Homo sapiens: one gene and its partners. The protein of the gene in region 3 purifies or fractionates together with the protein of the main gene of each other region. This does not show direct contact. Each region holds a gene or a part of one and is shown on either strand. Other genes may lie near its edges. The genes, in order: GIT2, CKAP2, CAMK4 and FAM110C.

Region 1 (7,815 bases), on a different chromosome or scaffold from region 3:
GTTTTCTTTTCTTTTTTTTTTTTTTTGAGATGGAGTCTCCCTGTCGCCCAGGCAGGAGTGCAGTGGCACGATCTCGGCTCACTGTAACCTTTGCCTCCTAGGTTCAAGTGGTTCTCCTGCCTCAGCCTCCTGAGTAGCTGGGTTTACAGGCATGTACCACCATGCCCGGTTAATTTTTGTAGTTTTAGTAGAGACAGGGTTTCACCATGTTGGTCAGGCTGGTCTCAAACTCCTGATGTCAGGTGATCCGCCTGCCTCGGCCTGCCAAAGTGCTGGGATTACAGGCTTGAGCTACTGCACCTGGCTGACAATGTTACAGCTTTAAGATATGTATGACAATTTCAACTTTTTGTTTGTTTCTTGAGACAGGGTCTTACTCTGCCACATCTTTAACATTTCTGTTGTTTTTCTTTCATTCCTAAAGTTCCAAGATTCCCTCTGGCATCATTTCCCTTCCACCCAAAGAACTTTCTCTAGCATTTCTGTTAAAGTAAAGAATAATTCTTTTTTTTCCTGTTAGAATGTCCTTATTTTGCCTTCATTCCAAAGTTATTTTCATTGGATATAGAGTTCTGGGTTCACAGCTCTTTTCTTTTAGCACTTTAAAAGTATTGTTTCTACCATCACAAAGAAGATGAGAAAAAATAATAATAATAAAAAAGGAGCAGTGGCTCATGCCTGTAATCGGGAGGCCCAGGTGGGTGGATTACTTGAGCTCAGGAATTCAAGACCAGCCTGGGCAACATGGTGAAACCCCATCTCTACAAAAAATACAAAAGTTATCTGGGCACAGTGGCACACACCTGTAGTCCCAGCTACTGTGGATGCTGAGGTGGGAGGATCACTTGAGCTCAAGAGGTTGAGGTTTCAGTGAGTCGAGATCACGCCACTGCACTCCAGCCTAGGCGATGGAGTGAGACCCTGTCTCAAAATAATAATAATAATAAAAGTATTATTCTGGCTGGGTGAGGTGGCTCATGCCTGCAGTCCCAGCCCTTTGGGAAGCCGAGGTGGGCGGATCACGAGGTCGGGAGTTCGAGACCAACCTGGCCAACATGGTGAAACCCCATCTCTACTAAATATGCAAAAATTAGCCGGGCATGGTGGCAGGCACGTGTAATCCCAGCTACTCAGGAGGCTGAGGCAAGAGAATCGCTTGAACCTGGGAGGCGGAGGTTTCAGTGAGCCAAGATTGCACCACTGCACTCCAGCCTGGGCAACAGAGAGATACTCCATCTCAAACAAACAAAGTATTATTTCATTTCCTTCTCATCTCTATGGTTTCTGATAAGAAATCCACAATCATTCAAATCACTGTTTTTCTATATATGTTATGTGTCACTTTTTCCTGGCTGCTTTCAAGATGTTTTCTTCAACTTTAGTTTTCAACAGTTTGATTTTGATGTGTCTCAACTGTGGATTTGAGTTTATCTTCTTTGGAATTTTCTAAGTTTCTTGAATCTGTAAGTTTATGTCTTTCACCAAATTTAGAGGTTTTTTTTTTTTTTTTTTTTTTTTGAGACGGAGTTTCGCTCTGTTGCCCAGGTTGGAGTGCAGTGGCTCAATCTGGACTCACTGCAACCTCTACCTCCCAGGTTCAAGTGATTCTTGTGCCTCAGCTACCTGAGTAGCTGGGATTACAGGTGCGCACCAACATGCCCGGCTACTTTTTGTATCTTTAGTAGAGATGGGGTTTCACCATGTTGGCCAGGCTGGTCTCAAACTCCCAACCTCAAATGATCTGCCCGCCTCAGCCTCCCAAAGTGCTGGGATTACAGGTGTGAGCCATTGAGCCTGTCCCAAATTTAGAGGGTTTTTTTGGCCAATATTTCTTCAAATACGTTTTCTGCACACACCACTCTTTCTCATCTCTTATTGGGAATCCAACGACATAAATGTCAGACATTTTAGTATTTTCCCACAGGTCCCTGAGACTCTGTTCAGTCTTTTCTTCCTACTCTTTTTTCCTCTCTGTTGCTTAAACCAGATAATTTCTAGTGATCTGTTTTCAATTCATTGACTTTCTTTGTCATCTCTATTCTTCTATTAAGCCCATCCAGTAAGTTTTAAATTTTTAGTGTTTGTATTTTTCAGTTCTAATATTCCTATTTGGTTCTCTTCTGTATCTTCTATTTCTCTGATGGGACTTTCTATATTCCTGTTTGTTTCAAGAATGTTTGCTTTTACTTCTTATAGCATGGTCTTACTAGCTGCTTTAAAATCTTTGTCTGATAACGCCAACATTTGTGTCATCTTGGGGTTGGCATCTGTTGGCTGCCTTCCCTGGCAAGTACATGAGAATTACTCAGATGTCAAGTCATTATGGATGATATCCTAGACACTGTGAATGTTTTGTTATGAGACTCTGGGCCTTCTTTAAACTTTATGCAAAAATGTTCATATTTTTGTCTTAGCAGGCAACTGACCAGGTGAGGTTCTGCCTCCTGGGCAGATGGTGAGAGAATAGAGAGAAAAAGACAAGCAATCAGGATCCCCCCTCATCCCCTTGCTCAGAGATTTAGGAACCTGTGCTGCCACTGCTGCTGCTGCTATTGCAGCCACAGGCTTGCCTAGGGGCTGGATGGGAGAGATCAGAAAAAGGAAGGAGGAGGAGGAAAAAACCCCAGGGGAATCCCCTTCCTCTCTGTCCTGTAGAAGTCCCATTTCCTGCTCTTTAACCAGAAAAAGGCTTTTTTTTTTTTTTTTTTTTTGAGATGGAGTCTCATTCTGTCACCCAGGCTGGAGTGCAGTGGCGCAATCTTGGCTCACTGCAACCTCTGCCTCCTGGGTTCAAGCAATTCTGCCTCAGCCTCCCGAGTAGCTGGGACTATAGGCGCCTGCCACCATGCCCAGCTAATTTTTTTGTATTTTTAGTAGAGACAGGGTTTCACCATGTTGGCCAGGATGATCTGGATCTCCTGACCTCATGATCCGCCCACCTCAGCCTCCCAAAGTGCTGGGATTACAGGCGTGAGCCACCGCACCCCGCAGAAAAAGGCTTTTTTGCACTCATTATGTACCTCCAGGTTTCAGGCTGTCATTGAAGTCCTATCAGAAGTAAGACAAACAGGACACTCACCACCAGCTGATGACACTTTTGAGTTCCCTAATCTACCAACCAGGATTTACTTTTCAGAGTCTTTAGCTAGCTACTCCAAGCATTTGGTCCAGGTCTGTTAGTTCTATTTTGCAGGAGACACGGTGGGGTGTGCTTACTCCATCTCACCCAGAACTGAAACTATACCAGAGGCTCTTAACTCTATCATACAACCAGGATGGAGAATCACTGCATACATGTATGTGAATGTTGTACATCAGGGGTTGGCCAATATTTTCTTTAAAGGGCCAAATAGTAAATATTTTAGGCTTTGTGGCCATCTGGCCTGTTGCAACGACTTAACCTATTCAACTCTGCTGTTGTTATGTGAAAGCAGCCATACACAAGGTATAAATAATTGGGCGCGGCTTTCTTGCAATAAAACTTTATTCATTTATTTTTTAGAGAGTTGGGGGTCTTGCTTTGTCACTGCACCCAGGCTGGAGTGCAGTGGCACAATCATAGCTCACTGCCACCCTGAATTCCTGGGCTCAAGTCCCAGTCTCCCAAGTACGTGGGACTACAGGCGCACACCACCATGCCTGGCTGATTTTTTAAAAAACTTTTTTGTGGAGACGGAGTCTCACCCCTCTTGCCCAGGCTACTTTCGAATTCCTAGGTGCAAGCAGTCTTTCTGCCTCGGCCTCCCAAAGTGCTAGGATTACAGACATGACCCGTTGCACCCGGCAGAAGCTTTATTTATTTATTTATTTATTTTTATTTATTTATTTTGAGACAGAGTCTGACTCTGTCACCTAGGCTGAAGTGCAGTGGCACGATACAAAACTTTGTTTAATAAAACAAGTAACTGGCTAGATTTGGGCTACAAACCATGGTTTGCTGACCCCTGTTCCCTATCACAAATAGCCAAGTTGGCTTTGGCAAAGTTTACTTCTGGACTTTTTTTCCATTCCTTAAGAAGAATTTTTCAAATAACTACAAAGGTTATTGCTTTGCTCCTACATTCCTAGTCCCACCATGTTCAAGAACTGTGGTACCCATTCAATTTTGCTTTGATTATTCAGTCTGATTCTTGAAATAGTCATTTCTCTAGAGCTATTAAAAATGAAAAATCTAAGGAGTTTTGTCCAACTTTATATCTTTTACATGTAACTGACAATTCTGTAGTTATCCTTTCAAATTAAAAGCCATATGTATAGCTTTCTCAGTGATATGTTACAGCAGAGGAGGTAATAACAAATAGTGTCCCAACTTGTTTTTCTAGAACCTTCCCAACTGGAGATGTGAAACGGTCATTCTCCATCCACTCACCTGGTTTCCTGCCACAGAGATAGAAGGCTAGTCTGTCCGTTAGCTCATACTGTATTTCCACGAGGCGCTCTGCCAGCTCATGGTGCCCTCCTTGCCTACCAAGAGAAAACAAAGTACCATTTATATTGCTCACTATTCACTGACTTTAAAATGGAGTACAAAGACGTCTCCTGAGACACCTGAGCAGTTTATCACACAAGACTTTTGAGAATCATCAACCTTCTTGTGGTAGGTAGATTTCTGAAGTCTACTTTGCATCCCACTTTTATAAACTGTTTTCACCATCTGAACTATCGCCTTTCCTTTATTAAGGCCAAAATAGAATATTTAATAAGAAATTCAAAGACTTATGAGAGGGAAGGATACAGAATGACTTAATTTAATGAGGTAAAAAAATGAAATTAATCAATGGTTTACGGTAGAAGTTCTCAAAAATTAACTAGCGCATTTCTAGAAATATACCATGTGCAGGCCCCACCCTTGGAAATTCTGAATCAATGGGGACAGGATGGGGCCAGGGGCCAATATGTTGAAGAAGGTCCTTCCCCTAGGTGATGCTGATGCAGCCAGTCTGACTCTGGATAAGAGTCTAGTAACCACTTCAAAGGCTTCAAATCAGTGAGAGACACGCCAACCTAACGCACAGCTCACGCCTGCAGCTACTTCTGCCTCCTTATCTTCAATTTGCACAACAGAAAATATTAAGTTTACCTTTCAACATCCATGAAATAAATACTTAGGCTGCTTAGAATCCTTTCAGCAACAAGGATACAAATTATATTGAGATTATTATATGCAAGGTACAAGTGCGAAAATTCCAAGGTAAGTGATAATAAGTATCATTTACCCAGGGCTCTCGTCCAAGATCAAGTATATTTTGTGGTTTTTGTCCTTAAAAGTAATGGCAAAAACTGCAATTACTTTTGCACCAACCTGATAGTTTCAGCCAGCTTCTCTCCCCACCATTCAAGGCACTCACAACACCCTTCAACCTACCACACAGCTTTGATTTGTGAGAGGCACATCTTATTTTCATTTTTTAGTATCTGTGAAATCAGGAAATGTCCTACAATTGATGATACACCATAATTTAATTGGCTGAACTCTTTTCTTTTTTAGTGCTCTGTGAAATAATGAAGCACCATGCAATACTGTACTCCTGCTGTTATTCCCAGACCCACTCTGTTCTTTCCAGTCAGGTCTCCTGCTGTGCTGAACACACTTTGTCCCTCCCTGCCTCCTGATCTTGACTCCTGCCTTTCCTCTTACCTGGAATGCTTCAGCTCTCCCTTCACACATTCAAATCCAACCCATTCTTCAAGACCAGCTGAAGAAATTTCTTAAATGATTTGGACCACAATGAAGAAACCCTATATATGCTTTTTAAGACCAATTATCTATTTTGGCAATGAATCCCATATGGTCTTGCCTCCTTGAACTCTTTCAGGCATTTATGAATCATCTTTTCCAAGAGAGTAAATTCTGGGAAGGCAGAGTTTTGTTATTCACCCATTTTATCCTCTGTGGAACAGAGTATTGTGCTTCACAGTTAATAAAAGTACTTTGGAAAAAGAAGGAAAGATGACTGATCTTTGGCCATTTAAATGATATTCAAGACTAACCTATAGATTTATTTTTCAAGGACTTTATTAATAAAGAAAAATTTAAATAATTTTACAGTGAGCACTTTTTTTTTTTTTTTTTTTTGAGACAGAGTCTTGCCCTGTTACCCAGATTGGAGTGCAGTGGCATGGTCTCGGCTCACAGCAACCTCTGCCTCCCAGGTTTAAGTGATTCTCCTGCCTCAGCCTCCCGGGTAGCGGGATTACAGGTGCCTGCCACCATGCCCAGCCAATTTTTTTTTTTGTATTTTTAGTAGAGACAGGGTTTCAGCATGCTGGCCAGGCTGATCTCGAACTTCTGGCCTCAAGTAACCCACCCGCCTTGGACCCTCAAAGTGCTGGGATTACAGGTGTGAGCCACCATGCCTGGCCTAGAGTGAGCACTTAGATGTCTACTACCCAAACCTTACAATTAACTTTTTACTATACTTGTTTAATCACATATCTATGTATATATTTGCTTTTAAGTTCAAGAAATAACTAAGAGTATTAAAAAACAGAAGAGTACATTCTGTAATTCTTGATACTTGATTTGGAATCTGACTACAGCTCAAACATCACTGTGTTATAAAGGATCAAGTAAAAGACTGGAAGCTTAGCACACTGGTTCATGATTCTAGCCTTCCTCAACTTTGCCAGGCTGAGCTTATATGCATTTGAAATGTCTTCATCTGTAAAATAAAATAACGTACATCTTTAAAGGGGTTCAATATCAACATATACAACTTAGCTACTTAACAAGGAATCACACCCAACAAAAAAATCCCAGAGAGAAGTAGCGAGAATCTAGGTCTCTTACCTTGCATAATCAACGGGAGTTTTCCCACTAGAATCCTGTGTGCCTGGGTCTGCTCCATATACTGCCAATAATTCAGCCTGTAAAATCTGCCCTGCTTTGGAGGCAACATGGAGTGGGGTGTTTCCTTTTTCCTAAGAATCATTAATAAAAAGTAGGCAAAAGAGCACATTAAATAAAGGCTACATGAACACAACTCACTTAGTTTCAATATCTGAAGCAATTCATGTTTTCTTACAGGATGAAAGAAGTTGGCTTGTGCTCCTAAAGATAACAGTCTCAAACAGGTTTCAAGATTCCCTGTTCTCACGCTCGAATGGAGTTGCTGAAAAACGCAGAAACAAAAAAGGAATCGTGGTTAGAGGTGTAAAGAATGATGTCCTAGGGCAGCTGATAGACCATTTTAATATATGTTACATCAGTAACGCATAATCTTTATTTGTCTCGGTAAAGTGCATGGACCAGTCTCTCCTTTGCCAGTCACAACTGTCCCTGGGCTGTAAGGTGGAGTGAGGCCACTTTACTGATAAGGAAACTAGGGCTGTGAAGGCTGACTTGCCCAAATGCATGACTTATCTAAGAAGTGGCACAACCAGAACCTGAGTGAGAGGCAGGACTGTGTGAAGAGGTGACTATGCGTGGCTCTGACATACGACAGACCTGAATTTCAAACTATACCCACTTCAAGCTGTGTGGCCTGGAGAAAGGGCTTTAAGCAATCTGAACCTCACTTTCCTCATCTCAAAAATGTCAACAATGGCCAGATGCAGTGGCTCATGCCTGTAATCCCAGCACTTTGGGGGGCTGAGGTTGGAGGATCACTTGAGCCCAGGGGTTTGAGACCAGCCTGGGCCACATAGCAAGACTCTGGCTCTACAAAAAATACAAAAATTAGTTGGGTGTGGTGGCATGCGCACCTGTAGTCCCAGCTACTAAGGAGGCTGAGGTGGGAAGATCACCTGAGCCTGGGCAGTGGAGGCTGCAGTGAGCTGTGATCATGCCACTGCACTCCAGCCTTGGTGACAGAG
Region 2 (8,334 bases), on a different chromosome or scaffold from region 3:
GGGGTCTTAACTAAGGCTGCGTGCCCACGTGGGCAGAGGGGCACAGGGGCAGAGGGACAGAGGGCAGGCTTGCTCTCTGCCCCCAGGGCTCCACATTTCCCCCAGTCGTGGAGTCAGTGGTCTGTGGCTAGGCATTAAAAGAAAGGAAAGGCTCTTTCCAATGAGTATAAGCCATCTCTCCCCCGAAATGAATTGCTACTTTTACCGTGTTCCAAAATCCTGTGTGTATTTTGGTCTATTTCTAAACAGTGTCTTCTGTATTTCATATCTTTCAATTTCCATCATGACCATATACCCAATAACCAAAAGTTCTTTGAAAACATTTGATTTGCTGTAATATGCTATCAATATATATCACAATTTACCATCATTGCCTGATTTTTGAGCATTTGATTGTTTACCAACTTTTTAGTCTTTTTTAATTGAAAGTAATGTGACCTAAGCATCCTAATCAGATGTGGAACTGTGCAGTTATGCCTGGGCTTTGCAATTATCAACATGTTAGGCAGTGAGGACATTTGCAAGGTATGTTTTCTGCCCTTGAGGGATGTACAGTCTGTAGGACACAAATAGAAGCCTGGCATATGATAGCTGCTGGGATAGACAACCGTATAAGGGTTTCCTGTATCCAGGCTGGAGCAAGGAGAAACGTCATGTGGCTTATATATGGCAATAAATGAATAGACAAAAGGTTTTAATTTTTATGAAGTTCAGTGTATTTTTTTCTTTCATAGTTCATGGAATTTGCCTATTTAAGAAATCTTTTTTCCACAAACCAGATATTGATACTGATTATGAAATCTTTGCCTAACACAAAGTCACTAAGATTTTCTCCTATAATTTCTTCTAGAAGCTTCATAGTTTTGGTTCTTACATTTAGGTCTATGCTTTTTTTTTTTGAGACAGAGTCTCACTCTGCCGCCCAGGCTGGAGTGCAATGGCACAATCTCGGCTCACTGCAACCACTGACTCCTGGGTTCAAGCGATTCTCCTGCCTCAGCCTCCCGAGTAGCTGGGATTACAGGTGCCTGCCACCACGCCTGGCTAACTTTTGTATATTTTGTAGAGACAGGGTTTCACCATGTTGGCAAAGCTGGTCTTGAACTCCTGACCTCAGGTGATCCACCCGCCTTGGCCTCCCAAAGTGCTGGGATTACGGGCATGAGCCACCACGCCCAGCCATCCCCAGGATGTTTTTGCCAGGACCTCCCACCTTCTGAATCAGATGGTTCCTTTCAGTCCCAATCCTACTGGACCTCTGTAGTGCCCAACACTGTGGTCCATTACCTCTTTCTTCAGCTTCTCTCTTCCCCAGACTTTGTGACCCCATTGTGTCCCCATTGTCCTCCTAACTTTCAGATTGTCCTTCCCTGTTCTCTCACAGGCACTTTACCTTCTTCACATGACCACAGGAGGAACGACTAACACTAATTAATCATCAGTACTCCAGGTGCCTGCAGTTTCATGGTCAGCTGTGTTGGCAAAGAACTGTTCTGAAAGGAAATCTTTTTTGTTTTGTTTTTTTTGTTTGTTTTTTGGATCTTTTAGAAAAAGGTCTGCTTTCTCTGCAATAATTGTGTAGCAGTAATATTAAAAAGTGTCTCAAAAATAGACATATCATTGGAGTGGGTGAGTCTGGAGATTAGAGGAGAATTGCCATTTTGAAAAACCTAGCAGTTTGGCAGGTTTTCCTATTCATCTCAGCCTACTGAGATCTCCATGGTATCCTTTGAGTCAATTTCTTTTTTTACCATGCCCACTTATAAAAAATTATTGAGGTTCACATAACATAAAATTAATCATTTTAAAGTGAACAACTCAATGGCATTAATACATTTACAATGTCACCCAACCACTACCTCTAATTCCAAAACATTTCACTTACTTCAAGGTAATGAAACCCTTGTCCATTAAACTGTCTCCCAATTCTCCCCCTACCCTCAGCCTCTGGCAACTACTATTCTGAGTTATTTCACTATGGATGTATCTATTTTAGATCTTTCATATAAATGGAATCATACCATATGTAACTTTTCATATATTACTTCTTTTACTTAGCATAATGTTTTGGAGGTTTTTGAGTCACTTATTAACGCTGTATTTTGTTCTCACTTAATAGAAATCCCTGGTTGCCCCACCTGTCTGATGAAACTTTAGTAAATAATCAACAATAATGACAGACGTATTTAAACAGCAAGTTATATCTTAAGGATGGTGATGGACAATGTTAAACTAAAACTGGGACATTTCATCAAGTAAAAAACTACACAAAATCTCAAACCAAATTCCTCATTAGCAAGACGCTACCATAAGATGTCTGAAGAAAAAAGCAGGCAGAAGTGGGAAAAACTGACCACAGCCGAGGGCCAGCTGTGGAGGCCCTCAGACCTGGGAAGGGTAAACGGGGAAATCACATCCTCCCGTCTGTGTGCCCGGAGCACCTAAAACCTGGCTGAAAGAGTCCAGTCCAGCCTTACTGCAGTGATCAGGCAAGAAATGTAAACCCAGTGCTTGAAACCAGGCAGGTGCAGTCCAGACTCGCCCTCACTTCCCCACTGCCACTCTTAAAACCTTCTAGCCCTGACTTGTTTCGTTCTGTCATGTGGATTGAGTGTTTGTGTGGGTTTTATGAAGGTGGTATTTTTAGATGAGAAAAACGAAGATTATGGCGGCACACTTAACCACACAAACACAAAACGTCTGTAACAAATGCTATTTTATCTTCAAAGGAGAATTATATATAACCTTGAGGAGGGGATGAGGTTTATCTTCATTTTTTTCTGTTTCTCCTCCTCTCCTCCCTTTTTTGCATTTGATAATTGCTTAGAATAAAGGTATGGAAAGTAGATCCCAATTTCAGTTCCCCTTCACACGCTGTGCAAACGTGGACAAACAACCTCTGAACCTGTCACCTCTCAGTGGAAAAAGTGGTGATAACGTCCCACCTCAGAATTGATGCTCAAAATGAAGCAGTATTTGTGAAACGAAAATACACACGCTCGTGGTACGCCAGATCGGTGTTTACGTCCTCGTCAGTGAACGCGTCGATGTTTAATAAGAAGGGCAGCCAATCAACACTTTTCTTGTCTTTTTCTCGTCTGCCTTCCTCCAAGGACTGTGAGGGTCTCAAGATGTGTCCCATCTCGGTTGTTTGTCAACCTAGTCCTGCTATGTCGTGGGGACTGAGCAGGCCGACTCCTCCCCCATCGCACGTCCAGGATGAAGAGCGCTGTTTAGGTTTGAAACCTGCAGACTCAGTCCCAACCGAACTGGGCAGACACCAGACCGGCCCCGGCAACTGCAGTCCAGGCTCCGCCTCCCTACGCCCATTGGCTTATTCAATTCACGCAGGAACCAATGGGCGGAGACGGCAGCCGCGCCGTCTGACGGCTTAGCCGCGGTGCAGACTGCGGCGGCGGTGGTCTGAGGAAGTTCTATCTTGGCGCTAAAGCGGAGACGCATCCCCCGACCCGAGGCTACGATGAGCACACCGGCCGTGCCCCAGGACCTGCAGCTGCCCCCGAGTCAGAGGGCGCAGTCCGCATTCAAAGGTGAAGGCCGCGGTGGCGGTGGCGGTGGCGGTGGCGGTGGCGGTGGCGGGCGCGGGCCCGGCGGTCGGGGCTCGGGGCCGCGCTGGCGCGCTTCACCTCTCCCCCGCTCTGTGAGATCCCTGAACGCGGCGTCGGCCTCGCCCTGCCTCATTCTTGGCCTTGTGGAACGGATCATAAAAACAGGAACCGCTGCGTGGTGTTACTGTGCGGTCGCTGCTGGCTGGGATGGGCCCTCCTAAGAAGGAATCCGTTAGGCGAGGGGAAACGCGCGGGCCTCAGGCCGGGGTCGGTGTCGGAGACCCTGGGTCCGCTTGGGGGCGGGGCTGCACAGGTTCAGGGACCGACTGCGCCTGCGCTGGGTCCTCCGCCTCTTAGGTCCCTAGCGAATTTCTGCAGGGCTGGGGTCGCATCATGTGTTATTTCCAATTTCACAGCTTCTCCTTCGACTTTATGGAAACCGAGGGTTGGTTGGGTCTTCAAAACTAATATTGTTATTCCCTTATTCTACACACGGGAAAGCAGAAGAAAGTAATTCTCATCTAACCCAGTTCTGGTAAATTAGAACTTTCGAGTCTAGTGCCTCACTTCTACCATTTAGTTTCTTAAAGCTTGGCTAGCAGGAGCTGTATGTAGAAAATGATGTTCTCCAGATTTTTCACAGGGAGTAGAGAATGTGATTCTTATGCAGAGGGGTTTTGGGGACCTGTTGTGGTAACAGTCTCTTCTAAGGTGATTTCTCAAAGGCAATATTGAATTGGAGAATTTTCTGTTATATAGATGTGACCTCAGGTGGAACCAGCTTTGGAAGTAAACTCTTCATTTAGTCAACAAGATTTATTTGCCGTTATCGATGTTTTAACTAATATTGACTTGTAGCTCTTACCTTTGTTATCTAGAGCAAAGAAGACAAAAACTCAAGGAACATCTGTTGAGAAGAAAAACGCTTTTTGCATACAAGCAGGAAAATGAGATGTTATCCAGGTAAGGTCAAGTTTATTTCTTTTCACTTCTGTAAAATTGTATCAGATCTGTCCAATGAAAATGTAAAGTAAGCCATATCTGTAATTTTAAATTTTCTAGTAGCCACATTTAGAAAAACTGCTTACATATTATTTTACGTCTTTTTGTGGTACAACGTCTTTAAAATCTGGTGTCTATTTTACAGTTACAGGACATTTCCATTTGGTCTATCCACATTTCAAGCACTCAGTAGCCACATTGGCTAGTGGCTACTTTATTGGATGGTGCAGCATTAGATCATCGTTTTATTAATTTTTTTTTTTTTGAGACAGAGTCTCACTCTGTTGCCAGGTTGGAGTGCAGTAGCGTGATCTTGGCTCACTGCAGCCTCCACCTTCTGGGTTCAAGTGAATCTCCTGCCTCAGCTTCCCAAATACCTGGGACTGACTACAGGCAAGTGCCACCATTCCCTGCTAATTTTTGTATTTTAAACAGAGACCGGGTTTCACTATGTTGGCCGGGCTGGTCTTGGACTCCTGACCTTGAGATCCGCCCACCTCAGCCTCTGAAAGTGCTGTGATTACAAGGATGAGCCACCGCGCCCGGCCTAGATTATCGTTTTCTACGTAAATTAATTCACAGTCTAAGAGAAAAAAACAATTATAAAGCAAAGTATGTGCATAGACTAGATTATCAACTTACTGTTTACACCACACAAAGGTCAGTCTTTCTATTATTTAGCAAAGCTTTTTACTCAGTGTATGGGGGAGTTCATCAGGGAAGGGTTGGGTGGCCCTCCCAAATGCTTAGAGATTACTAGTTGTAGTCTCAACCCTCCACAGAAATATCTTTATTATTTTGTTAAAATATCTTAGATAGTACATAGCTGTAGCAAAAACAAAAACCCATGAAAGTAGATGAAGCAGAAAGGCAAAAGGTCCCCTCACTCTCTAGGGATAACCAGTAATAACATCCTTACAGGCTTAGGCTGGGTGCTGTGGCTTACACCTGTAATCCCAGCACTTTAGGAGGCTGAGGTGGGCAGATCACGAGGTCAGGAGATCAAGACCAGCCTGGCTAACACAGTGAAACCCCGTCTCTACTAAAAATACAAAAAATTAGCCAGGCATGGTGGTGGGTGCTTGTAATCCCAGCTACTGGGGAGGCTGAGGCAGGAGAATCGCTTGAACCTGGGAGATGGAGGTTGCAGTGAGCCGAGATCGTGCCATTGCACTCCAGCCTGGGTGACAGAGCGAGACTCCGTCTCAAAAAAAAAAAAAATTGTCTCAGGTAAACAAAATTGTATATACCACCCACACACATATTCAGAGAGTGGAAATGATAACGCAAATGGGATAAAAATTTTAACAATAGGTGGATCCTGGGTAAAGAGTGTACAGATATTCTTTGACCTGTTTATATTTTTGCAACTTTGTGTAAGTTTGGCATTCTAAAATTTTAAAAATAATTTCTAACTTTATATTAATAAGTTGCTTTAGTTTGGAATAAACAGTTTATCCTTCACAAATAAATCTTTTATTTCTTTGTTTAAGACAAAAAGGTGATCCTAGGTTTTTTATTTGAATAAGTAAATGAATGGTGATAACCGTATACTGAAATAGGAAGCCTGAAGGAGGAGCTGGGGAATTAGGAGTTCTGTTTTGACTATGTTTGAGGTACCAACCAGACATCCAAGCAGATATGCCAAATAATTGTGTGTCTGAAGTTCAGGGGAGGGGTTGGGGCTGGAAGCATAAACTCAGGAATTGATTAGTATACAGATGATATTTACTTAAAAACCTTAGGATGGAATGAAATTACTAGGGAATAAGTAGAGATAATATGGATTCAGACAGTGACTCTCAACCACTTATTTAAATAAAGAATCCAACAAGGTCAGGGGTTTATAATACTCTTAATAGGAAGAAAAGAAAATTCTAAAACGCTTCATGTGGCTTAAGTACTACATTTATTCCTTTCAGAAAACAGATGTTGGCTGGGTGCAGTGGCTCATGCCTGTAATCCCAGCACTTTGGGAGGCTGAGGCGGGTGTATCACTTGAGGTCAAGAGTTCTAGACCAGCCTGGCCAACATGGTGAAACCCCGTCTCTACTAAAAATATAAAAATTAGCCGGGTGTGGTGTCAGGCGCCTGTAATTCCGGGGAGGGCCGAGGCAGAAGAATCGCTTGAACCTGGGAGGCGGAGGTTGCAGTGAGCCAAGATCAGGCCATCGCACTCCAGCCTGGGTGACAAGAGCGAGACTTTGTCTCAAAAAAAAAAAAAAGGAAAACAGATGTCAATTTAAATGTTATCACCTCAGCAGTGAATCATTAAATAAGACAACCAACCTGTGTTGCAGCTTTTCAGAATTAAACAGTTATATTTTACAATCTCTAAAGTATAGATATCCTAAGACTCATTTCCGATAACCCTTCTGAGGGCAGTTTTATAATAAGACAGAATAGGATTAAGTCTCCCCACTGGACAGGTGAGTAAGATGGGTTCTTCTTGTCATCCTGAGTTTTGTTTTGTTAGCTGGCAGTTAGCTACTAAGATACCCTGTTAAGTGGCACATTTTGATCTTCCTTCACCATTGTTCAAAATGTATAGTACAGGTTGTGTCAAAGTTCTGTTCCTTCTCCAAGCTGACAGAACAAATAGATATGAAAGGCAATGTAAGCAAAATTATTAACTACTAAATTATGTCAAATGTAAAATATATATATATATATTTTGTTTTGTTTTGTTTTTTTGAGACGGAGCCTTGCTCTGTCGCCTAGGCTATAGTGCAGTGGCGCGATCTCAGCTCACTGCAACCTCTGCCTCGTGGGTTCAAGCGATTCTCCTGCCTCAGCCTCCAGGGTAGCTGGGATTACAAGCATTTGCCACCATGCCTGGCCAATATTTTTGATTTTAGTAGAGACAGGGTTTCGCCGTGTTGGCCAGGCTGGTCTCAAACTCCTGACCTGAGGTGATCTGCCCACCTTCTCTACCCAGAGTGCTAGGATTACAGGTGTGACCCACTGTTCCTGGCCTCATTTTTTTTTTCAGAGAATGAGAGATCACGCATTTTAATGTGATCTCTGAACTTAGGATCTGTCTTAAAATCAATGGCATGTCTAATTGACCGTATTTTTTCCTATCGTTATAGTACACAAAATTGTTAAAATCACTTGCTAAGAGATGCTCACAGTCTGCCTTAGCCAGTTTATAGCTGTAAAAATAAGTTAAGTCAGTTTCTTGAGGAGGGATTTTCTTTGCAATACCGCCTAGAAACTAACGTTCTTTTTTTTGAGAGATGATCTCATTCTGTGTCACTCAGCCTCTAGTGCAGTGACGGGATCTTGGCCCACTGCCTCAACTCCCAGGCTCAAGCAGTCCTCCACCCCAGCCTCCCAAGTAGCTGGGACTATGGCACCCACCACCACACCCAACTAATTTTTTATTTTTTTGTAGAGATGGGGTTTTGCCGTGTTGCCCAGGCTGCTCTCGAACTCCTGAGCTCAAGTAATCCCCCCACCTCGGCCTCCCAAAGTGCTGCTATTACAGGCATGAGCCACCACAACCAGCAGTGCATATTCTTAATGTATCCTAATATAAATTAAGCTGTGAATGGCATATGGTAATTTTTGGATCACTTCTGGGAGGGCTCTTTAATAAAAGTATTTTCAATGTAGTACATCTGTTACTAAGTACTTAAAACTAACCCAAGGAGGTATTACTTACTAAAGGTTATTTGAAGACTTGTTTGAATGACTTGAGAATGATTTGAAATAAGATTATTAAGTATTTACAAATTCTATGGGCAGAGAGTGTTAGGAC
Region 3 (7,815 bases):
ATTATAGGTAGTGGCAAATTCTGAGTCCCACAACCTCAGCCCAAGACCCAGCTGCTTCTATAGCTGACGTTTTTCTCTCACAATGGTTACTTTATCTACAAAGTGGTTTTCAAGTGACACAAGCCTACTCTTTTTGTTTTTTTTAAACAGGTTGTCTTTGGTCTGACATCAACTTACCCTGCTGACCCAATCTGCCATTGCAATGTTCATGCTTTATAAATTTTGCAAAACAAAAATGTATATCCTGAATTTTTCTGTCCTTTTTTTGCCTCTTCTTAGAATGTACCATCTGCCTGACATGCTGTTTGCCAGTGCTCTACCTATTAAAATCCTGCCAAATTTCAGAGTCTACCCCTCCCCCATAAAGACACCCCAGTCCTCTCTGTCACAACTCTGTCATGAAGATGGCTATTGTTCTTAGATTTCTAATAAGTTTTATTCATTTTACTTATTCATTAATTTATCTTTTATTAAATATATTGTTGGTGCCTTATTAGTAGTACCCTATGCACTTGGAGGCCAAATATTGATTTATCATGCTCATTTACACTCTAGGCCCTTACCCCACCACATGCACACTGCCAGCATACATCGTCTAGGTCAGAATTATTGAAAAGCTTAGACTTATAAACAAGAGGACTTTAGGTAGCACAAACGCATGGAATTAAATAACAAGGAATAAAAGAGAGAGCGAGAACATCCTTTTCTTTTCAATTACTTTTCAATGATTCTGATTACATCAAGAAGAAAACTTCAATTTGTGCTACTCTGGTTTTAACTCTGCTAATCTTTGATCATCTCTTTTTTAAGGAAGAAATCAGTCCTCAGAGTTACAGCCTTCTGCATGTGGACAAGTCTAGCTATAATTTACTAAAAATGTTATGTTTCCATTACAATTTATTTTTACAATTTGTTTCTATTTATGGCATATACAATTTGCTTTTATTCACAGTTTTCAATTTAGTGAAAATTGTATTCTTGGTAAATAAATTTAGGTTAACAAAATAAGGTAATTTAAATAAAAATATTAAGCAAATAGCAGAAGTGGAATACACATAAAACAGAAATCTTATGGTAATACATAGAAATGGGAGAAACATTTGGTTGTAGCAGATACTCAGTAAAGCCAAATTAACATAATCTATCAATCTCCTTGTTGTTGTTCACTATCTACATAACTGAAAGAAAATGTGTAAAACACTAGCTTCAAGACATGATTCTCAAGAGGAGAGAGGGGACACATTTGACAATGTTTAGAGACAGTTTTGGTTTAACAACTTATAAGGGTGTCACTACTGGCAGCTAGTAGGTAGAGGCCAGGGACACTGTTAAACATCCTACAGTGCACAGGACAGCCCCCACAACAAGGAATTTCCTGGGCCAGAAGTCTATAGTGCCTAGATTGAGAAACCCTAGTCTAAGAGAAAAGAGGAAGGTCTACTTGCATTACCCTTTACCCATCACTATGAATCACTGTCTCTCCAGACACTGTTCTTTTCTTTATTTGATCTTTACCACTGACAAGATAATGACTGAGGAAAATCTCTGACAAACTGTATTGAAGGGTCCACATCCTTTATGTGCTAATACTATGCCTTCGATATTTAGACCTAACTTCCTAATTAAACCATTGGAGTCATGAAATCTTCAGATAATCCTGTACTACAAATAGATCAAGAAAACTGAGGTAAAGATCAATATAATTTGAGTAAAACCTTGACTCTAGCTGCTATCAACTTCATGAAAAGTTCCTCTTTGTCCTGAATTACATGGTTCCTTGCCTCAAACACCATATTTTGCAGTATGAATTTGACCTTGAAATTTTACAAAATCAATATTCTGTTTATTAGATACGTAGCTTTCCCAAAAGAGTTTTTAAAAAACCCTTTATTTTTTTTAAAAAAAAAGAGGAAAAAAAGAAAAAAAATATTAACAAAAAATAACTAGTAGTTGAAACACTTCACTTGGCTAACACTACTTTGTTCTTAAATGTATTACTGCAAACACATAACCCACACATATATGTCTGAGGGTAAAGTGTTTACAAGAAAGTTCTTTGAAGCTATTTTGTGGTTAGTGTTCTTTTTCTCTCTCTCTTTCAAGTTCTCCAGAACAGTTTAGAAGCAGATGGCACCTGTGTCTTTTTTTTTTTTTTCCCCCAAAATCTGGAGTTATTTTTAACCTTGTGACAGTATTTAAACATGGAAAAGTAGTGTGCTCTTAAAGCAATGATGTTATCGTAGCCTTCACTTGATTTTAAGGTTTTTACAGTGAGTATATTTCCAAATTTAGCATTTACTATGCATTAACTTTAGTGGATGGTATAGCTTGGAGGCATTTCATGCCTTTTAGTCCAACTTGATTTAACTCCTAATTCTGATACACCTGTGGTAAAGTGACAGTGAAGGTGAAACTGAATCCCTTTCATTTCAGAGCCACAAAACACTCTGCCAACAGAAAAGTGACATTATTTTTAACAACAGCAAGCTACAGAGGTGGCAGCTACCAATACTCACACTGAAGAAAGAAAACCAATGCTGATTGAGATTAGGGTTATTGTCAGGCAAGTTTTAGGGAGAAGAGAAAAGGGTTACAGTATTCTCCTTATCCTAGGGTCACTAGAATCAATATCACTACGACATCAGGACCAAGACCTCAAAGAAGAGGAAGCGGGTACACATGCTGCACCCGGCCCATTTCATTATCATTGATTCACCCTCTTTAAAATCATTTGTTGAGTACCTGTTAAGTACTAAGTGCTCTGCTAGACATGAGCACATAATAGTGAACCAGCCAAACCCACAGACTCTGCCTTCTGGAAGCTTACAGTCAGTGTTCCTGGGAAGACCCTATGAAGCCCCAGTTTTTATTCTCCCACTTGCAATCCCACCTTGCTCCTGAGTCAACTGCCTGAGAAAAGAATCAGATGCACAGAGAACAAGACAGGGTTGGCACAAGTATATTTTTAATTCCTAGTAAGATAAAAAAACCTACCATCCCCCAAGAGCTGGAGCTTCTAAGTGCAGTGTGTGTAGCAGGAGATCAGAAGCCAGCAGTATACCTACCCAGATAGGCCATGGGGCCCTAAAGCATGGTGTCGGAAAAAATCAAGGATCTAAGAAGCTCTGGTCACGAGAATGGTTTAGGAAATTGGTTGACCAAAAAAAAGGAGAATCTGTTTCTTCAGCAGCCATGCTGTGGACTGAATTGTGTCCCCTCAAAATTCACATGTTGAAGCCTTATTCCAACTCCAATATGATGGTATTTATAGGTGGGGCTTTTGGAAGGTAATTATGTTTAGTATGAGGTTATGCAGCTAAACCCCTCATCGTGGGATCAGTGCACTTGTAAGAAGAGGCACCAGAGAGCTTGGTTTCTTTCTCTCTTCCCCTCTCTTTCTCTCTTCCTCTCTGCCTTGTGACGACACAGCGAGAAGGCAGCCATCTGCAAAACAGAGAGTCCTAACTGAGGAAATGCATTGGCTGGGACCCTGATCTTGGACTTCCTAGCCTCCAGAGCTGTGAGAAATGCATATTTATTGTTTAAGCCACCCAGTCTAAGACATCTTGTTATATCAACCAGAGCCAAGAGCACTAAGACAAGCCAAGAACATTGGCTGAAGCCCTTCTCTTAGAAAATGCACGCTTTCGTGTTTCCTTATAGAAAGCATTTGCTCACTGTGACCTGGAGCCAGAATACATGTTACCATGTAGAATATACCACTTCTCAGTCTCTGAGTTCCTTCCCAACACAGCCCCTGGCACTCTTAGCCAGTTCAAATTACTGTGTGCCCAGCAGACCTTAGGGAGACACCAGAGTTTTTCCAAAATGTTTAGAAGGGGAAAAATCAGTAATGACCTGGAGGCAAAGATAGGAGCCTTTTTCTCTACAGGGCTGTGCCAAAAGGATACCACCCAATGTTGCCAATTGGTCTGCAGGGAATTTCTTTAAAAGACTCTGCCTCATAGCTTAATCTATCACACACAGATTTATGGCCTACAACAGCACTTTTCAAACTGAATCACAACACATTAGTGGGATGTGAAATCACATGGGTTCAGCCAAGTTTTTTTAACAAAATAGATGAAATCAAACAGCATATAATAGAAAATATTAAAGTGCATTGCTGGTAATAAGAATAAACACTGTTTTATGAAATTGTTTCTGTTTTATACACACACACACACACACACACACACACACACACACACCCCTTACTATGGAAATCTATTTGGTTCCTAAACAATAATACATATAGCAAGGGATCCTATATAATTAGTTTAATTGAGTTGACAAATAAATGTATTTAAAATTATAAATGTATACACATAATTGTGTTTACATAAATGTGACACATAAATGTATTATTTAAAATTACATTGCAGTGGGGAGGAGTATGCAAAGTGCCTAGCCTAAAGAAACTACAGTAAGTGGAATGGGAACTAAATTTAAAGAAAAAAAAGGTTCCAAAATAGTTTAACACATTCTTCTCTTGTTCTAATTATCTTTCATTTGGTTTGGTTTCCTTGGATTTGTATGTCTGGGAATACATCTGGTTTTCTTATCATCTTTTCTTTCAACATGGAACAACAGTGAGAAACTAAAGGTGAGACAACTGAAAACAGGACATGGGTTTGCATGCACAGACGAAATCTGCACCACCAAGCAGGCTGGGCCATTTCCTGTCATTCCATGTGCCAAACCACTGGGCGGGATCTGGACCAGAGGCAGCTCCCTTCTCCCTCAGAAAAGCCTTTAAAATGCCAGTTTCTCAAATCACTGGGCAAAAGACCAACTGCTCTCGAGGATCTGGAGCCCTGAATAGGATCATGGCCAATTCGTATTTTTAAGTAGAGTTGAATGTGTGTGTGTCATGATTTTTGTAAACTTTTTGAAAAACTCTATGAACAAAACAGTGTCTTCAAATGTGATTTTAGGAAAATTACTTTGCCTGATACTTTTAATTCACCCGTAACCCCTATACTCTATGCCCTCCCTGCCAAAAGAAAGTGAGCACATCTGTCTTGGTCTCAATGGCTCCATGTGGATCAGTGCTGCCAGCACCTGCCTTCGCCAGCACTATCCAGGGGCTTCAGGTGGATATAGCCTTGGGAGTTTAGCTCCCCTTGAGTTCCCAAACACATCCTCAGGGTGTATCGCCCCAGTGGTCACCGTCCAATCTTCTTGCAATCAGGAGTCACTACTTTACAACAGACAACTGTAATGGAGGAGCCAACAAATCACTAATTCTGGTGGAGACTGTCTACTTTCTAGAGCTAACCACAACAGCAACACGTAACACCAGAAGCACTGTTCTCTTAGTATATTAATGACAACTGCATTACTAATGAATTAGAGTCACACTAGCAGGTGGATTTGGTCCAAAGCTGAGAGTAAAGGCTTGAAACTGATGACCTGAGTTCAACTTGATCTCTAGTGTAGGAAGAAAGAAGATTTTAGTCACTCAGCCAATATCTACGATCATCATTCTGTTGCATTCTCTGGCTCTATCGATTCTTAATAATTATATCTAGAATAGTAGTTGATGTTTTAAGTTTATTTACTTAAAAATTTCTGATAATGAAAATGATACTTCTCAAAGTCTCAGCCAGAGTAAGCATGCACCCCACGAATGCTGCCATGTACAGAAAACTTACCTAACAATACGCTTTACTGCTGACAAACAGAGCCTAAGTAAGACATTTTAGCTTTTATTGTTCCTCAATGTAGTTTAACTCTGTGATCTTTTACAGTAATCATAAGACTAGATAATAGAGCGAGAATCTTAGCAATGTATAGACAGAGGGTCTCCAATAGGATGGGCTTAACTTACAATTTTTCGACTTTTATGATGGTGGGAAAGTGATAGCATTCAGTAGAAATCGTACTTCAAATTTTGATCTTTTCCTGAACTATACATGGTAGGATACTCTCTCTGATGCTGGGCACCGGCCATTAGCCACAGCTCCCAGTTAACCACAGGAGGGTAAACAACCGGAACTCTAGAGTGTTCTCTGTTGTCAGTGTTTTTTGAATATTGTGTTTTGTGTTTCATATCTCACCATGTCTACAAAATCCCATCTGTACACGGTATTTAACAGTTATTATAAAATAGGCTTTATGTTAGATGATTTTGCCCAAATGTAGGCTAATATTAAGTGTTCTGAGCATGTTTCAGGTAGGCTAGGCTAAGCTACAACGTTTGTTAGCACAGGTGTAGTAAATGCATTTTCAACTTCTGATATTTTCAACTACAGTGGGCTTATTGGGACATAACACCATCATAAGTTGAGAAGCTTCTGTATAACCGATTAATATTTGTCCTCCAAAATTTACTGCAACACGTAATTCTGAACTGAAAAATAAAAAACCCAAACTTCAAATTTCTCAGTTTTTTCCTATGCAGGCTACCATCTCATAGGGGTATACAATTGGCAGTTTATTTTTTTCCCATTTTTCAAATTAAAGTGAATTTCTTGAGTTTCATGACGATGAAGCTTATTCATAAAGACAACGTGTGTGGATAAGTCAGCCTATTTGAGGCATCTAGGGTTAATGTTACTCTGAAAACAGATGTGCTACTGGGACAGTCCCTGCAGCAGCATCAGGCACTTCCTCTACTACACAGTAGTTTATAAAACACCCAGTAAACAATTTTAAGTAGATCATCCCTTTACTCAGAGGTTTACATGGTTCCACTGTCACGCATCATACAATTAATAACAGGCATGTTTTGGACCTTACAAAAATCGACATCATTGTCCTTTCATTTCCACCTATATATATAATAGATCTTCAGATGAATACTGAAAAACTTGATCAAAAATGGATGTTTATGTATACATTATTCAGTGCTCAAATACTTCAAAACATTTTTAACAGTGACAAATCACTGAATTTTCATTCAGAAGTTTGCCTATTTTACACATCTATATTCAATGAGCCTTCAATAGTACTAGCAAAGTGGGGGGAGAGTGGGCAGTGATCATTACATCTTCCCACTAAATACCAACATCCAGAATCCTGCTCTGGATCCTCCAATGACTTGAAAAAATAAAAAGGCTGTTAGCAATACTATTTCCAGCAAAAAGAGAATGAAAAATGAAATTGCAAAGGAGTAGTAAGTACAGAAGCTGCAACTTGTCAACCGTTGAAATTACATCTTCAGATTCCCTATACTAAAGAGCCTGGATCTAAAATAAGTGTTGAAAATAAATCTCCTTACCTATGGATAACAGAGAGAAAAGACAAAAAAAAAGGAAGTAAGGGAAAGAAAACTATAATTTTCAATGGATACAAATACGAAAGCATATGGAATCATGCAGAAGGCCAAACTGCTACCTGTTTGGATCTTCAGAGGAGGGATAGGGGACATATCTGCAATCCTAGGGAGATGGTCTGTTGCATATATAATTTAAATAAATCACTCCAGCCCATGAAAGAAGGGAAGCAGCAGCATTCTCACTAATTACCACTGCCTGGATCCCATATGCTGCTTTCTCTTTAAAGCCACACTAGTTCATTATTCTGCCTTCAACTCTCTTAAATGATTCATTTCTCCCTTCACTCCTGAGCAGACTCTGCAGGGAAGCTAGTATTTAAGTTTAATTTCTCGTGTCACTTGCTTTGGAGAGCTTGACGAGGGGAAGGAGGAGGAATCTAACTTAATAATTCTGTCTTGATTTGGAGGGGCACCCTCCGGCCCCCACCCTAAACAATAACTAGACAAACAGGACCCTCTGGCAAGCTATAATCGTGAGCAAAGATATCAATTGGGAAAGCAGGGCCCACGTGCGGTGGGAGCTGTCACCCAAG
Region 4 (6,911 bases), on a different chromosome or scaffold from region 3:
TACTGCGGCCTGGACCCCGAGGTGGTGGAGGCCCTGGGGAGGGAGAACTTCACCGCGGGGTCGGACTGTGTGACCCTCAAGGTGCGCAGCGTGAGCGTCGCCACCTCCGGCAGCGGCTTCTCCCGGCACAGCGGCGGCGACGACGAGGGGCTGCAGGAGGAGGAGCTGATAGAGCAGGTGCCCAGCACCACTTCGGTCATCGAGAGGAACGCCCGCATCATCAAGTGGCTGTACACCTGTAAGAAGGCCAAGGAGACCCCCAGCCAGGAGCAGAGCCGGACCCGAGGTGTGTGCCCAGAAGGCTGGGGGCGGGGCTGGCCGTGTGCGGGGCTGTGAATCTTGGTGAGTGTGACCGAGCTGGGCGATGGCCAGTTACAGCTGCTTAGAATTGAGTGCGATTTTGAGCTACAGTGTGAAAGGGACCCAAGAGACTGACGCAGAGGCTTGTGAGTTGAGCCCCCGCTGCTGAAGAGCAGAAGGTACCAATCCAGGCACCTGCTGGTCCAGGCCCTTAGGAGTCTGCTGCGTCTGGCTGCCTGGAAAGGCAATTCTGCAAATTAATATGTCCCATTTGGCTTATTATTGTGAAAACAGGAGAAATCCAAAATGCTGCCAGAAAGCAGTTTTACACCCCTAGTATTCTTTCCTGAGCTGAAAACAGCTTGAGAGCCCTAGTTCCTGAGTTCATTGACCTGTGCTGTGGGCGGTCCTGATGTTTGATTGGAGCTGACCAGTCCACCTGCAGCCCTAGGTAGGCGCTGCTGTGTTACTGGAACAGAAAGGAAGACTCCCTGCACTTTCCTGGAGGCCTGTGCTGAAGTGGTGAGAACTTCTCCACAGGATCTTGTAGCACTTTGGCATTCACTTAGCAACAAAGATCTTTATTTGGCTAAATTTTATTTAAATTGTTTTGAGAGCTTCAGGTTTTTAAACTGGGGAAATTGGACTAGATTGTAACTAGAGTCTATAGTTTATTTGCCTCTGATGACACTACAGGAAGTAACCTCCCTTTGGACAACCAGTAGTGCCGGATTGACCTCGAGCTCTTTTTGCTTTTCACTGGGGAACTGAGGAGTGCTGGTCTTCACTGTTACCTGCTCTTCCCTATGGGCGTCTTGGAAAGTAGTGAAGAGAAAGAACCTTTTCAGGGCTGTCTTTGAGAACGAACAATTTAAACTTTGCGACATCTTTTTTTTCCTCTTACCCTTCAATGACAACTTGCTATAAGTAAATTTTAAAAATCATGAGATGAAATTATTTTCTGCCATTGTGATAAACTAAGTGAAGATGCATGGCAGCCTGTAGAGTTTGGGGGAGGCTGCCCAAGAGATGTTTGCACAGGGCTCACCTATGTTTGACAGCTAAAAATATCTCCAATAATTTCTCTGGCTATGACTTTAGTACAGACATGAAAATTAATGAGAAGAAGATAATTCATTCTTTTTCTTGAACTCAGAAGGCTCAGGACTTAAGTTCTTCCTTATAATTTATAGAAGATTTGTGTTTTCCACTAGCCTAAGTTCCCAACAAATATATATAGGCAAAGTTCTAAAAAGCAAACAAACATTAATTTGTAGTTTTCACAAATTGTCTTTTGGATCTGAGATGAATGAATGCTGGCAAGGGTATTTCCATGATGGCACCATGTGTAGGGCAGGAGCTTTGGAGAGTGGCCAGGTCCGTGGAGGGACAGTGTCTGGTGGATAGAGCACTAAACCAGAATTAAGGGCCTGTCTTATGTTAGCAAATGATTCCTGCACTATAGACCAGGCGTCCTTTGTCCATAAAAAGAAGGGAGATAGGCGGATGGTTTTCAACCTCTACATTTTCTAGTCTGTGTAGTAATAATCTGTGTTGCATGACTGAAACCCAGAAATGGAAAACAAACAAAAAAAAGTTGTCTATTGAAGTACGTGAGAAGTAAATTTATGAATAAGCTCCCTCCAGGTAGCCATAGCATGTGCAGGCAGTAGGTAGACTTGGTGGTATAAATAGTGGGGAGGTAATAATGTGGCATACAAATGAAACCAAAGTAAAACCTGACAACATAAAAATAAAAGCAGCCTGCTCTGATCCCTCCAGACCCAGGCTGGTTCCCATCTCGAATTAGCCAATGTCAAAAGAGTGACCTGAATGAGAATTTAGTTGACTTCATAGACTAAATCCTAAAGACCTTTTAGGCTTGGACCTATGAAAAATATAAGAAGTTTAGTTAGCTTGTGAGAACTTTCACTTTTATGACAAAGAGAAATAGTTGAAGGAAGAGGGAAAGTGAGAGCAGGTTTGGGAAGGCACTAAGGATGGAGGCAGGAAAAAGGCTCATGGGCTTCTTCCTCCCCTCATGTCTCCCTCCACCTGAATCCCGTTTGTTCCAGACTGGAGACAATGGCAACTGTCTTCTGAGAAGTTTCACATTATTTCTCAGAGCAGGGGTACAGTCCCACAGAAGCTACCCCAGTTTTTATATGGAATTGGCAGTCACCAGCACTATAAAGATTTTCTTTACTAATGTACTTCCCTAGACCCAAAACAGCACAGGCCTCTTTGAAACTGCAATGCAGAGACTTACTGCCCGGCTACCAGGGGTGGGGTGTATGAGGAGAACAGAGTTGCCTGGGCTTTCTCCAGATCACCGGAACAGTGTCTGCTCATGACCTTAGCCCCTTCACAGCTCCCCACCTCCCAGCACTGGTGTTCCCACTGGAGGAGACCAGCAGGGAAAGCCACGACAGAGTGTGAACACCTGGTCAGTGGGGCGGTCCTCTGACTTCCTGCAGAAGTCCCTTGTTCTGAGACCAGTTCTGCAACTTCTGGAAGATGTGGAAGCAGGAATTTAAGCTGTGCTTTTTCTGCTGAAATTTATAAGGATTCATTTTAGGATTTCTTGAAAGATTCAGAAAACTTGAGACGAACAAAGGTAGGTTTTCTAAGTGAAAGAGAAAACAAATATATTTGGAGGTTTTTGTCCTCTTGGTAGATAGAGATTTACAACTTATAATAAAAGTGTCTCAATTATAATAGAACTAAATACGTTTATAAGTTTCTTGCCCCATGGGGTAAAGATAATTGCTTTTCAAAACTGAGACTATCACAACTGGGCAATGACTCGTATAATCCGCACACAAGTCCTCTGGGGAACCCATGAGCAGTAGTTGGTTGTACATGGGTAATTTTGGTATTCTGTTTCCCAGAGCTTAGTTTATGAAAATATCTCTTTTATCTGCTGTGATGTAGTCATCTTCCTGTCTTTCAATTCATCAAACTAGGGACTTGTCAAAATTTAGATCTTTCTGGTTTTCTGTTTTGCGTAGAATATATAAGTTGCTGCTTTTAATACTGGCATAAATAACTTGTCCTTTGGGAAATTAGGCATAAAACATTGCTTAATTTCAAGGCAAAAATGTTCGGACAATTCCACAGCTATCTTCACATTTATCCTTGACACAAAGAAAAAAGAAATACCTGTAGAAGCGCATCGAAAGCTCCTGGAACAGAGTTGTGTCTCATATTTGCAAAGATGCAGAAAAAATAAACCCGGGACATCCAGCTTTCTTTTCCTTTCTTCTTTGACTATTCTGAGAAGCTATGCGACTAGGAGCACATTTTAGGTAAACACGTGGCTTGAGTAGCCATAAGGCCACTCTTCCCTGTCGTGTGACCCGCGCCTGGGCCTTTAAGAGATATTGGTGTTTGAAAAGGGAGGAATCTGTTTGCCCTCAGATATTTAGTTCAACTGCCTGCATTGCTTCCTATTTTGTTGTCCAACTCTGTAGTAGTTAGCACTGGCCTTACCAACATGTAAAGAAATTTTCTTTACTGCCCCATGAGTAGTTGGAGGCAAAGAGAAATTTTTAAAGCGCAGAAAAAGGCCTGCAGGGAGATGGAATTTGTTCTGCCAGAGAAACGAGATGATAGCTGTATTTAATAAAGTTACTGACCTCTTGTCAAAATTTAAAACGCAAAAGAAGATGTTTCAAAATGCAGAGAATGTCAGAAAACAAAAACTACAGGGACCAGACCAGTATAATGTTTAGTTTTCATTATACTAACTTTTGTCTAGACTGGAGTTGATTCACTATTTTTTCTTTAACTCCTCAGGAAGCAAACCTTCCCGATGATGAAGACTTCTTGAAGGATTTCATGGGTGATTTGGGATCCCAGGACCATTTGGCTAGTGTGCCTAGGTGACCACATGATTGCTGTTTTACCAGGAATGCAGCATCCCATTGACAAAACAAGTGCTCTGAGAAGGTTTAAAATACTACAGAGAATATGGGAACACAGACCTTGAAATTTAGCTGAGTTGTAACAGCTGAAACTCCAAGAGGTGTCTTCCTTGTTTGAGGTGAAACTAGTGTTGCTTCCAGAGGGCAGCTGGAAACCGTAAAGCTGTTTGGAAATCTTTTTGACTGACTTGCTGACAAAGAGGTACTGTGATGCATTTTAACAATATCTAAGTTGATTTTTTTTTAAATCAAGGAAAATAAAAACCAAGCATGAATGCTATGGTATGTGCCCCTTTTGACCATCCTGGGCTGATTAACATCATTTAAATCAAAGTAATCATAAAAAGGCATATTCTACTTCAATTATGTGGTCAAATAAGAGTAAACACACACACTCACACATGCTGACCCCAATTGCCAGAGCATTACTGCACTATAAATTACGGTTAATTCCCAAATTATACTACTGTTTATCTTATTTAACAAGTCAGAAAGCACTTTTAAAATAACTTGAGGGCTACAAGGTCATTCTATTAATGTCATTCTCCATTCGGGTTGTAGGCATGTGGAAGTACCCATTAAAAGATAAGTTAGAGTTTAAATACTGATAAACAAAACCTTTTATTGCAACTGGACAGTTTCTGGAGAGTTAGCGGAAGAATCTTGGAGTTTCCTTTGGTCAGATGAATACAACATTTCACTTTTGCAGCACTATTTAGAATGTACTCCATGGTTCTCTTGTTCCCAACTTCCAAAAAGAACAGAAAACTTTGGTTTACACAGAACACGGGCATCTGAGGCAGGACCTCTTCCCTGCCCTTTGATCTGACTCACACCTCCACATATGACGTAATCAACCCAAATTTGACACCAATTCACTCTTTTCTGCAAAGGGCATATTTTGAAACAAGGGACAGCCTGAGGGCGGCTATAATGAGAATGTTCATGGGGGTTACTGGGTCCCTAATTCTGAACTTGCTTATGACACCCAGAGTGAATAGATTCAGATTCAGAACCTTCTGAGAAATAACCCAAAGAAAATTTGTTACCCAGCCAATTCTTCGAAAGCTTAATATCAAAATATATCTTTTCAAGAAGAAAATCGTTAGAGAGAAGAATGTGGAGGGGAGAGAAATGGGTTTCTCATTGATATGATATTTTGTTAACCATTTCATTTTGAATTATTCAAGTTTTGGTTAATATTGTATTCTTTTTTCGTAACTATTTTACCGTGAGAGTAGGTCATTGGGTTACTTAGATATTTATTTTTACACAGTTATTAGTCTTCAGATAGTTTTATTTTACTTCATATGATTTTAGTTTTTGTCAGTATAATTTTAAATCATGTTTTTCTTGGTCATCTCTTTGTGTATATTGTGTAATTGGATTTTCATTGACTGCAAGTGGAGTGTTTGCCACTCAATTCAGTACTCAGTACTATGGTGACTTGTTTTCAAATAAGTCTCAGATACACATTTAGGGAGCCTTTGCTGGCCGAATATAGACTCTGTCAGGACAGCAGGTCCCCTGATCTAAGAATTTTCCCCAATGGTTGCTCTAAAAATGCTGCTATTTTGCTGTTCACTGTATTGCACTTAGTTAAAAAGAAGATAATGTGAAAGATGAGAGCAGTTTTTTAAAGGATCTTTTCATATACCCAATTCCCTTATTTTCAGATGTCCCATCAATTTTAGATATGAAAGCTTTAAGTAAAAGTGTGTATGCCTTTCTACTGTCAGAACAGGATGGATGCAGCCTGGGTCAGATTTATTTAAGATAAAAATCATGCAGACTCATCATTCATATCATAGGTGAAAAATGTAAAAACCAAATGGTTTCCACTAAAGCCACCAAGATCTTTTAGAAATGTTTGCACCTTTGGTGGTGGCACAGGAAAAGAGAAGAATTCAGCTGGAGTGAATTCTAGAAGTAGATATCAGAAACGGGGCATGAAGAACAGGGGAACTGGGTGGCATCAGACTCCTAAAGAAGTGAGTTAATTTTCCTTCCCTTCCATTCAGATTCATGCCACAGCTCCATATCTTGAGTATGTGTAAGAGGTGAGTTCCTTCTTCAGCCAGGGGCGGTGGCTCATGCCTTTAATCCCAATGCTTTGGGAGGCCAAGGTGGGAGGATCACTTGTGCCTTGGGGTTCAAGGTTGCAGTGAACCATGATTGCACCACTGCACTCCAGCCTGAGTGACAGAGCAAGACCCTGTCTCTAAAAATATATATAAAAAGTAAAACTAAAGAACTTCTTGCCTAAACCTGAATTACCGCAATTTGCTGAGTGACTTTGAGAAAAATCAGACTGTTTAGTTCAGTCGGGATGAAAAGCTTGCGATTGCTTCCCACAAGAATGGGCAATAGTGACGGCTGCAAGGTACTTTTATTTGTTCATGAAAGAACGACAATTTTTCAAAATGTAATTAAACATAATAGAATGTTTTAAACTACTGGGCACTGAAACTGGAAGAAAAAGGAGGCTTTATTGAACATTCCCCTTTTTCAGTTGGTTCAAAGTTCAGCACTGTGGTTATCATTGGTGATGCCAGAAAACATTAGTAGACTTAGACAATTGCTATGGCAGTTTCTAAACAGAGCTTTTTCTATACACTATTTGCAACTGGAGTGCAATATTGTATATTCTGTGTTAAAGAAATAAAGTATTTTTATCATTTATTA

What was found.
Region 1: the proteins of CAMK4 (region 3) and GIT2 purify together in Homo sapiens (affinity purification with mass spectrometry; 2 studies listed by BioGRID and IntAct, with this or other methods). This does not show direct contact.
Region 2: the proteins of CAMK4 (region 3) and CKAP2 purify together in Homo sapiens (affinity purification with mass spectrometry; one large-scale study listed by BioGRID and IntAct). This does not show direct contact.
Region 4: the proteins of CAMK4 (region 3) and FAM110C purify together in Homo sapiens (affinity purification with mass spectrometry; one large-scale study listed by BioGRID and IntAct). This does not show direct contact.

The regions. Positions count from the first base shown.
Region 1 is NC_000012.12:109,976,583-109,984,397, forward strand, and holds part of GIT2 (ARF GTPase-activating protein GIT2), read right to left. Parts: intron 7,113-7,815; coding exon 7,026-7,112; intron 6,922-7,025; coding exon 6,791-6,921; intron 5,945-6,790; exon of another isoform or gene 5,489-5,944; intron 4,598-5,488; exon of another isoform or gene 4,465-4,597; coding exon 4,370-4,464; exon of another isoform or gene 4,323-4,369; intron 1-4,322. UniProt on the Homo sapiens protein: GTPase-activating protein for ADP ribosylation factor family members, including ARF1.
Region 2 is NC_000013.11:52,452,076-52,460,409, forward strand, and holds the start of CKAP2 (cytoskeleton-associated protein 2), read left to right. Parts: upstream 1-3,402; 5' UTR 3,403-3,481; coding exon 3,482-3,551; intron 3,552-3,912; exon of another isoform or gene 3,913-4,104; intron 4,105-4,447; coding exon 4,448-4,532; intron 4,533-8,334. UniProt on the Homo sapiens protein: Possesses microtubule stabilizing properties. Involved in regulating aneuploidy, cell cycling, and cell death in a p53/TP53-dependent manner.
Region 3 is NC_000005.10:111,224,906-111,232,720, reverse strand, and holds part of CAMK4 (calcium/calmodulin-dependent protein kinase type IV), read right to left. Parts: intron 1-7,815. UniProt on the Homo sapiens protein: Calcium/calmodulin-dependent protein kinase that operates in the calcium-triggered CaMKK-CaMK4 signaling cascade and regulates, mainly by phosphorylation, the activity of several transcription activators, such as CREB1, MEF2D, JUN and RORA, which play pivotal roles in immune response, inflammation, and memory consolidation.
Region 4 is NC_000002.12:38,815-45,725, reverse strand, and holds part of FAM110C (protein FAM110C), read left to right. Parts: coding exon 1-286; coding exon of another isoform or gene 287-336; exon of another isoform or gene 337-342; intron 343-2,660; coding exon of another isoform or gene 2,661-2,767; exon of another isoform or gene 2,768-2,917; intron 2,918-3,420; exon of another isoform or gene 3,421-3,608; intron 3,609-4,098; coding exon 4,099-4,118; 3' UTR 4,119-6,911. UniProt on the Homo sapiens protein: May play a role in microtubule organization. May play a role in cell spreading and cell migration of epithelial cells; the function may involve the AKT1 signaling pathway.